Regions from separate parts of the Homo sapiens genome. Here region 1 is linked to region 2. The links come from fine-mapping of genetic effects on gene expression. A gene starts in region 2. The other region holds a variant in brackets. All regions are shown on one strand. Distances are between the middles of the regions. Region 1 overlaps NUP98 (nucleoporin 98 and 96 precursor). Region 2 holds the start of NUP98 (nucleoporin 98 and 96 precursor).

Region 1 (4,389 bases), 93 kb after region 2:
TATATTGAGAACTAGTAGATAGGGTTTCTGGTTTTAACTGCATTAGAATCCAGAGTCCTAGTTCCAATCCCAATTTTGTTGTGTTTTGTTTTTGAGGCAGAGTTTCTTTGCTCTGTCGCCCAGGCTGGAGTGGAGTGGTGTGATCTTGGTTCACTGCAACCTCCACCTCCTGGGTTCAAGTGATTCCCCTGCCCCAACCTCCTGTGTAGGTGAGATTACAGGCGTGTACCACCACCACACCTGGCTACTTTTTTTTTTTTTTTTTTTTGTATTTTTAGTAGAGAAAGGGGTTTCTCCATGTTGGTCAGTCTGGTCTCGAACTCCTGACCTCAGGTGATCTGCCCGCGTTGGCCTTCCAGAGTGCTAGGATTATAGGCATGAGCCACTGAGCCCGGCCCCAATCCCAATTTTGTAACTTTATTACTTTGTGCAAGTCATATAATAGCTGTGAGTACTGATTTTTCTCTATAAAATATTACTTTGTCTACATCACAGGGTACTTTTAAGACTCTGTATGTGCTCCACAAAATTTAAAAATTTTAGTACCTAGTAGCACAGGTTTCTTTAAGCTATGTCTTTACTTCCCTTTATCCCAGTGCCTTTTGGTGTGTTATGTGTTTAACCTTTGGCTTATGTTTGACTTTAAAATTATTTTATCAGCAAACATAGCAACTGCTGTGTGCCAGGCTCTGGTGAGACGCTATAGATACAAAGAAGAGAAGTATTATATGAATTCTGCCTTTCAGGCACACACAGTGTAATGGGGTCCATCCATCACACAAATATACTAGCTCTGTACACAGCCTTGAGGAGGAACAATATTTTTGGTTGTTGTAAACTGCATTTTTTTTTGGTATGGCCTTTTGATTCTGGGAAGCACATTCATTCTATAGATATTGCCTTTTTAGATCATGAAAGCATCATTGCTTACTGATGAAGAAGATGTAGATATGGCACTGGATCAACGCTTCAGTCGCCTGCCTTCCAAAGCAGATACTTCTCAAGAAATCTGTTCTCCCAGACTCCCCATTTCAGCATCCCACTCGTCGAAAACTCGTTCACTAGGTACAGTATAAAAGATGCTATTTTACAAGAAAGCTGTACAGTCATCAAGTCCTGCTTTTCACTTTTCTTCTTCTAACCCAAGTGGACTTCTCTAGCAAGTATCTGCCAAACAACTATACCTGTGACATAAGGGTGCTAAGAGAAATTGTACTTATAAGTATTCATTAAGAGTAGCCAGGTTTTTTGTTTTTAGAGACAGGGTCTCTCTCTGTTGCACAGACTGGAGTGCAGTTATGCAGTCGCACTTACTACAGCCTTGAACTCTTGGGCTCAAGCAGTCCTCCTGTCTCAGCCTCCTGAGTAGCTAGGACTATGGGCATATACCCACTACTCAACTAATTATTTTTTTAAATGTTTATAGAGATGGATCTTGCTATCTTGCCCCAGGCTGGTCTTGAACTTCTGGCCTCAACTGATCATCCTGCCTCAGCTTCCCAAAGTGCTGAGATTACAGGTATGCGTCATTGCACCTGGCAGGAGTGGCCGGTTTTTAAGAACTAGAATTACCTCTGTTTGTGCAGATGCAGAAGTGTATGGAGAAAAAAAGCATTTGTGCTTTGTTTAGGTTCATGTTTTTGTTTGCTTATGAATGTGGATTAGATAGTAAGCTCTGACTTCCCAATTTTTATAACATTACTTAGTTCAGCAAGTTGTCCTGCACTATACTTGTTTTGTGCAGTCCTTACAGCACTGTCTTATTGTCTTCTAGGGACAAGTATTGCTTCTCGTAATGCACAGAGCACATCAGATTTCTACTTTTCACTAAACCTTTTTAAATTCCCAGGGAAGTGATT[A/T]CATATTTGATTTTAAAGTTTTCTCTTTTCTAGTGGGCTTGTAACTATGTGGGATTGGAAATAAAGTTTTAATATCAGCAAAGAACTTAAGCAGATGTAGTTTCAACATATTTTGAAAGCCAGAGGAACTGGCAGAGAGACATTTGTTTATATTGCTTTAAAAACTAAATATTTTTCAATTCTTTTGAGTTCCCTTATTATCAACTTTGCTTTTTAAAAATATTTTTAACTTCCCTTTGGTATAGAGGAAAGAAAGAAAATATATTAACCAAAAAAGTATCAGTTAAACATTCTTAATAACCTTTTCCGTAATGGATACTACATGAAAATCTGGTACTTCAATAATATTTAACTCCATGCTTTAGACAAAAGCCACGTAAAATTGGGAAACAGGCACTGGTAATAAGAACTGTCCTTCAGCCGGGCACAGTGGCTCATGCCTATAATCATAGCACTTTAGGAGACTGAGGAAGGAGGATGGCTTGAGGCTAGGATTTGGAGAGCAGCCTGGGCAACATAGCAAGACTCCATCCCTATAATAGCTAGCTAGCTAGATAAAAATTTAAATGTTAAAAAAATTTTTTTTTAAAGAACTGTCCTTCAGAAGGTCACATGTACAATTGTAAGATACCTAGTGTGTTTTTATTTCGTTGACTGTAGCATTGTTTAGAGTAGAGTAGGAATTTGAGTTTTGATCTTACTTTTATATGTGCTAAGAAATCGTTACCTTTAGGATTCTGATAAGGGCATGAGGAGTGGTGCCAGACTTAACCTTGGCTTGTCTCCTGGTCCTGTCACTTTGTAGATTTGGACAAGTCACTTATCTGAGCTCAGTTTTCTCATATATACAATAGGAATGATAATAATGCTAATCATTTAAAAGTTTTTGAGGCCAAGTGCAGTGGCTCATGCCTGTAATTGCAGCACTCTAGGAGGCTGAGGCAGGTGGATCACGAGGTCAGGAGTTCAAGACCAGCCTGGCCAACATGGTGAAACTCTGTCTCTACTAAAAATACAGAAAAGTTAGCCAGGCATGGTGGCGGGCACCTGTAATCCCAGCTACTCGGGAGGCTGAGGCAGAGAATTGCTTGAACCCAGGAGGCAGAGGTTGCAGTGAGCCAAGATCATGCCACTGCACTCTAGCCTGGGCTACAGGGCGAGACTCTGTCTCCAAAAAAAAAAAAAAAAAGTTTTTGAAGAGTGAAATGAAATAACATATACAAATGACTTATACAGAGCCTGCTGCATATTTTTAAATAATATTAATAGTGTTGTTGCTTTTATTATTGTTGTAGATATCATCATCATCATTAGAATCTTGTCCTGATTTCCTAGTTCAAAGAGTAATTTCTGCAAAATCTGACTTAGCCTGCTTCTGGTCATCCACATCTGATATAAGTAGTTTGATTAAACATTGAATGATTTCAGCCTTACTGATTTTTGTTATTGTTCAAGAAACAATAGCTTGTGTTTTGTAATAGTCTTTCTCCCCTTCATTCCCGCTTCATTTCAGTTGGTGGGTTACTACAATCAAAATTTACAAGTGGAGCTTTTCTTTCACCAAGTGTCTCTGTGCAAGAATGTCGTACTCCCAGAGCAGCATCTTTAATGAATATCCCATCCACATCCTCTTGGTCTGTCCCTCCACCCCTGACTTCTGTGTTCACAATGCCCAGCCCAGCCCCTGAGGTTCCGTTGAAAACAGTGGGTACACGTAGGCAACTAGGCCTAGTCCCTCGTGAAAAGTCTGTCACCTATGGCAAGGGAAAACTCTTGATGGACATGGCCCTATTCATGGGACGCTCATTTCGTGTTGGTTGGGGCCCCAACTGGACTCTTGCTAATAGTGGAGAACAGCTGAATGGCTCTCATGAACTAGAAAATCATCAGATTGCCGATTCCATGGAGTTTGGATTCCTGCCCAATCCAGTAGCTGTTAAACCGTGAGTCACATTTCTTGATGCTTTTTGAGAAAGGCAACATGATAGGTGAAAAAAACTAATCAGGAGGATAGGGCCCTGCTTTGTCATCTTTCTAGAGAGAGAGAGAGAGAGAGAGAGAGAGAGAGAGAGAGAGAGAGAGAGAGAGAGAGTGTGTGTGTGTGTGTGTGTGTGTGTGTGTGTGTCTCAGTTTTGCTCTGTTTCCCCGGTGTGTGTGTGTGTGTTTTTGAGTCTCAGTTTTGCTCTGTTTCCCAGGCTGGGGTGCGGTGGCACGATCTCAGCTTGCTGCAACCTCTGCCTCTCAGTCTGAGGCTCTTCTCCTGCCTCAGCCTCCTGATAAGCTGGGATTACATGCACACGCCACCACACCCAGCTAATGTTTCCTGAGCTCAAGTGATTGTCCTACCTTGGCCTCCCAAAGTGCTGGGATTACAGTCATGAGCCACCTTGCCCAGCCTATCCTTCATTTTTAAAGTTGACTTTGAAAAAATAAAAAACAACCTGTAATCCCAGCACTTTGGGAGGCCAAGATGGGCGGATCACGAGGTCAGGAGATTGAGACCATCCTGGCTAACACGGTGAAACTCTGT
Region 2 (4,389 bases):
TTACAGGCGTGAGCCACCACTCCCAGTCTCCCATTTTTTAAACAAACAAATAAATCAATTATCTCTAATCCCTTGCCATCACCGAAAACCCAGATGGCTTTAAACTCATTTACATTTTAGGTAAAAGCCCAGTTCAATTTTGCATTCATGTCTCACAAAGGAGTAGTGGTGGAGGTTTTTTAAAAATTTTTTTTGAGATCACTCTGGAGCGCAGTGGCAGGATCTCCACTCACTGTAATCTCCGCCTCCCTGGTTCAAGCCATTCTCGTGCCTCAGCAAACCGAGAAGCAGCTGGGATTATAGGTGCCCACCACCATGCTTGACCAATTTTTGTATTCTTAGTAGAGACAGGGTTTCATCATGTTGGCCAGGCTGGTCTCGAACTCCTGGCCTCAAATAATCTGCCCGCCTCAGCATCCCAAAGTGCTGGGATTACAGGCATGAGCCACCAGCCCGGCCAGTATACGCTTTGCTTTCTGCGCACAGTTCCTGCTATGAGACTCTCAGTCACTAAACAGGTCTAGTTTCTAGAAAATGCCCACCTTTCACTCTTGTAATATCAGTTTTCTGCTAATGGGCTAGGCCCCAGAAGGACTTCCAAGAAGAGCCCAAGGCACAGAAAACCGAGGGTAAATAATAGGATACAAAGTGACAAGGCTTTAACAGAGGCCTGCCCAAGCATTAGCTCAACTCGCTGTGAAAGCTTGGCAAATGTATCACTGAGAAGATGGGAACATTTGAAATACCCGTCCTTTAAGAATAAGTAGGGGTTCGGCTGGGCGCGGTGGCTCACGCCTGTAAGGCCAGCACTGTGGGAGGCCGAGGCGGGCGGATCACCTGAGTTCCGGAGTTCGAGACCAGCCTGGCCAACATGGTGAAACCCCATCTCTACTAAAAATACAAAATCAGCTGGGCGCGGCGGCGAGTGCCTGTAATCCCAGCTACTCGGGAGGCTACGACAGGAGACTCTCTTGTACCTGGGAGGCGGAGATTGCAGTGAGCCGAGATCGTGCCACTGCACTCCAGCCTGGGAGAAAGAGGAGACAGAGCAAGACTCCATCTCAAAAAAAAAAAAAAAAATTAGTTCATGGGCGAGGTGGCTCACGTCTGTAATCCCAGCACTTTGGGAGGCCGAGGCGGGTGGATCACTTGAGATCAGGAGTTCGAGACCAGCCTGACCAACACAGTGAAATCCCCGTCTCTACTATAAATACAAAAATTAGCTGGGCCTGGTGGCGGACGCCTGTAATCCCAGCTACTTGGGAGGCTAAGGCGGGAGAATCGCTTGAACCCGGGAGGCAGAGGTTGCAGTGAGCCGAGATTGCGCCAATGCACTCCACCCTAGGCGACAACGCGAGACTTCATCTCAAAAGAAAAAGAAAAAAAAAGAATTAGGGGTTCTCCACGTGCAGCTGGGAAAGACGTTCCAACAATCCTCATTTGTACCAGGCCCTTTGGTGGGCCAGTCCCTTAGGGCATCTCTAATGCTCCTAATGTCCATCCTAGAAATTCAGGGAGGGAAAGAAAGTGCTGGGGCGAGCATGGGTCAGGAGAGAATAGGGTCAGGATTTAGGGCCCTGAAGAAGCCTCGGGCAAACTCTTTGGACAGACAGACCTTCCAAGAGGGCCCTCAGGCTCCGCACGTGGTCTGGGCGGGAAGTGCGGGCAGAGAGACTAGGAAGCCTTCCCAGCAGCGCCGGCGGACCGGGGCAAGGAAAGGGTCGAATAGTTACCATGCCATTCTGGGGCCGTCCCTCTGATTGGCCCGAGCTCCCTCAGCCCGAGTCGCGGCGCTCCAAGGAAGGGGGCGGAGTCTCTATGTTGCGTCACCACCCTTCCCGACACCCCGCCGGTGCTTCCCAATCTAGCCATTCACAAGCCCACTTCGAGAGGCCCTGTGTGACGTCACGACACGCTCCCGCCAACCGCGGCGGCGAGGGGCGGGACTCCACGGCCCTCTCACCGCTCCTACCCTGTGCCTCCCCGAACTCCTTCTGCCCCTCCTCTTCCCTCTCGCCCCTTCCCCCTTCAGTTCGGTTTCAAAAGACGCGTTGCCCAATGAATAACAGGGTCGACCCAGAGTGGCGGCCGCGTCCACCAATTCGCGGACGGCGAGGGCGGAGCGTCCGCAACGAGCCTCTGACGCCGGGCGGCGTGTGACGCAGTCGGGCCCTCTGCGCGCTGCGCCCGAAGCGGCGGTCGGTGGCAGGGGTGGTAGCGGCGGCGGCGACGGTTTCGTGGGGGCCGCGCGCTGCTCTGTGAGCGGCGGGTGGCAGCAGGGGACTCCTGACACTTCCCCTTCCCCACCGAACCGCGGTAAGTCGGGAGCCCGAGCTGCAGCGGCCGAGACCGGCAGGTTTCTCCCCCCTTCCGGGCGGGCGGACGCGCGGGGCGTCTCAGGGCCTCTCCGCTTCGAAGTCTAGCGCCGCTGCGCGCACCTTCTGGCCTGAGAGAGGGGCGGTGCTGAGGACCCGGGGGCCCGGAGCCCGGGAGGCCCGGCTTTGGAGGCCCTGGGAGAGAATGGACATCAGTGGGGTCTAGGCCTGGAGGTCTCCAGTTGCTGCCCACGCGAGTGGGTGTCTGTCTGGTTGTACTCATTCATTCAGTGGTGTAAGGACCCCACGGTGGGCTGGCCTTTCCGGGGTCAGCGCCTTGAAACCCTGAATACGGTCTGCCCCGCACTTCCTTGACCGTCATGTGGGACTGGGCTTTATTTGCCTTGGCTTCTCCATAAGGGAAGTGGGCACCCCGAGGATTAGGGTGAGTCCGAAGTTTGGGAGATTTTTAAGATAATATCTGAGAATAGGAGTCGGTTCGGTGGAGCAAAAGGTTCTTTTCTATTTTCCCACGTGTTCAGTGTAAAGCCAGATGAGGAGACAGATTGAGTTTCTGGATTACTATAGCCATAAGGACTTTAGAAATTGTTTAAGTCAATCCCCCTACCTTACATCAGTTTTGTAGATGGGGAAACCGAGGCCCGGAGTAACAGGCAGGATTAGCCAATGCCAGATTTTTGACAGTCTAAACAGTTTTCTACTACCTCACCCTCCCTGGATATTTCAGTCTCCCATTATTAAGAATTCCCTTTAGGAGGTCGGTGCGGCATGGACATTAGGTAGCTAAACGTAGATGTAGTCTTCACAGCGTTTTCCGTTTAGTTGCTACCAGCTCTGTTCACGGGTAAGGTGGAAGCTTCGTTAGTGGTACCCTAACCTAGAGCTTGAGAACTAAACTTAGAAGATGGTTAAAGAACGTCAGCGTTGTTATGTATCGGAAACAAATCGGTAAAACTACAAGCCATTGTTTCCCTTTCTAAATCTGAATTTTTTGACTTGTGTCAGCTGATGAGGACTCGGAGTCAGTTAGGGATTTATAACAGTACTGGAATAGAAAGCAGGAAATATTGATAAGACTTAGAAAGCCAGGTAGGAGTCCGTTTGTAGTAGTTGTACCTCGGAACTCATGGCTCCTTTCAGGTACAGAATTCAAAGTGAAGTATTATAGTAGAATAAGGTGAGGAAATAAAACTCCGTTTTGGAGGAAGAAGCTAACTGGAATAAAGAGCAAAAAGAGAGCAGTGATCATTCCCTGTGACGGTCTTACAAATTCGAAAAGAAACTCGAGTTAACTGGGTTACAGTATGTTTACCTGGTGGAGGAAGTTAGGGTATTTAAAAACCAAAACTAGAGGTTGGACAGGATAAAGGTACTGGGAAATACTTGGGTAAAATTATTCTTTTTGACTCTTCAGATTTGATGAAATTGAATTAGTTGACACTTGGTTCTGTACACATCAGTAAGATTGTTACTTTGTTCTTGTATAGATGACAAAGCATAAACTCAGAACTAGTAGTGCAGAAGAGAACCGTAGTCTAAATAGTAAAGCGTGAACAGGGTATGTTTTCCGTGACATTTTCTCAGTTCAGGCATCACCCTCTTCTGGGAAGCTTTTCTTGGCATTCTCTTCTCTGCAAGCTTCCATAACACTTATTTGATATTTCTATTTATAGCACATATCATTTTTATTTTAGCTGTTTTTTTAATTAGGCTGGTAAAATATTTTCATCTTATCTTTGTTGTCCAGTTGCTTGCCACATAGTAGGCCCTCAGTAAGTGTGTTTACTTGAATGAATAGACAAATATGGAGGAGTTATACCTAACAGTAGTCAATAGAGAGGCTCCTGAAATATGGGGCCCAGATAAGATAGTTCCTGCTGTTTATATGTTATGTGATACTTTGGTCCCTGACATTTATTTGTTTATTTATTTATGAGATAGGGTCTCACTCCATCACCCAGGCTAGAGTGCAGTGGCGCAATCTCGGTTCACAGTAGCCTCTACCTCCTGGGCTCAAGCAATCTTCCCACCTCAGCCTCCCAAGTAGCTGAGA

The links. PIP is the estimated chance that this variant, and not a neighbour inherited with it, causes the effect. A credible set is the group of variants that fine-mapping cannot tell apart.
Region 1: its variant is the best candidate, but not a certain one, in a credible set for the expression of NUP98 in whole blood (TOPMed, PIP 0.54).

Annotation. Positions count from the first base shown.
Region 1 is chr11:3,701,876-3,706,264 of GRCh38, reverse strand. NUP98 (nucleoporin 98 and 96 precursor) reads left to right here. Exons shown (of 33, transcript NM_016320.5): 22 at 909-1,065; 23 at 3,373-3,802. Among named protein-coding and RNA genes, the nearest start is that of CHRNA10, 33 kb to the right of the region's middle. RefSeq lists an enhancer at 3,685-4,184. The variant A/T (reference allele first, on the strand shown) is at 1,860.
Region 2 is chr11:3,795,327-3,799,715 of GRCh38, reverse strand. It overlaps NUP98 (nucleoporin 98 and 96 precursor), which reads left to right and starts at 2,162. Exons shown (of 33, transcript NM_016320.5): 1 at 2,162-2,316. It also overlaps a transcript of PGAP2 not described here. RefSeq lists silencers at 2,146-2,315, 2,396-2,485.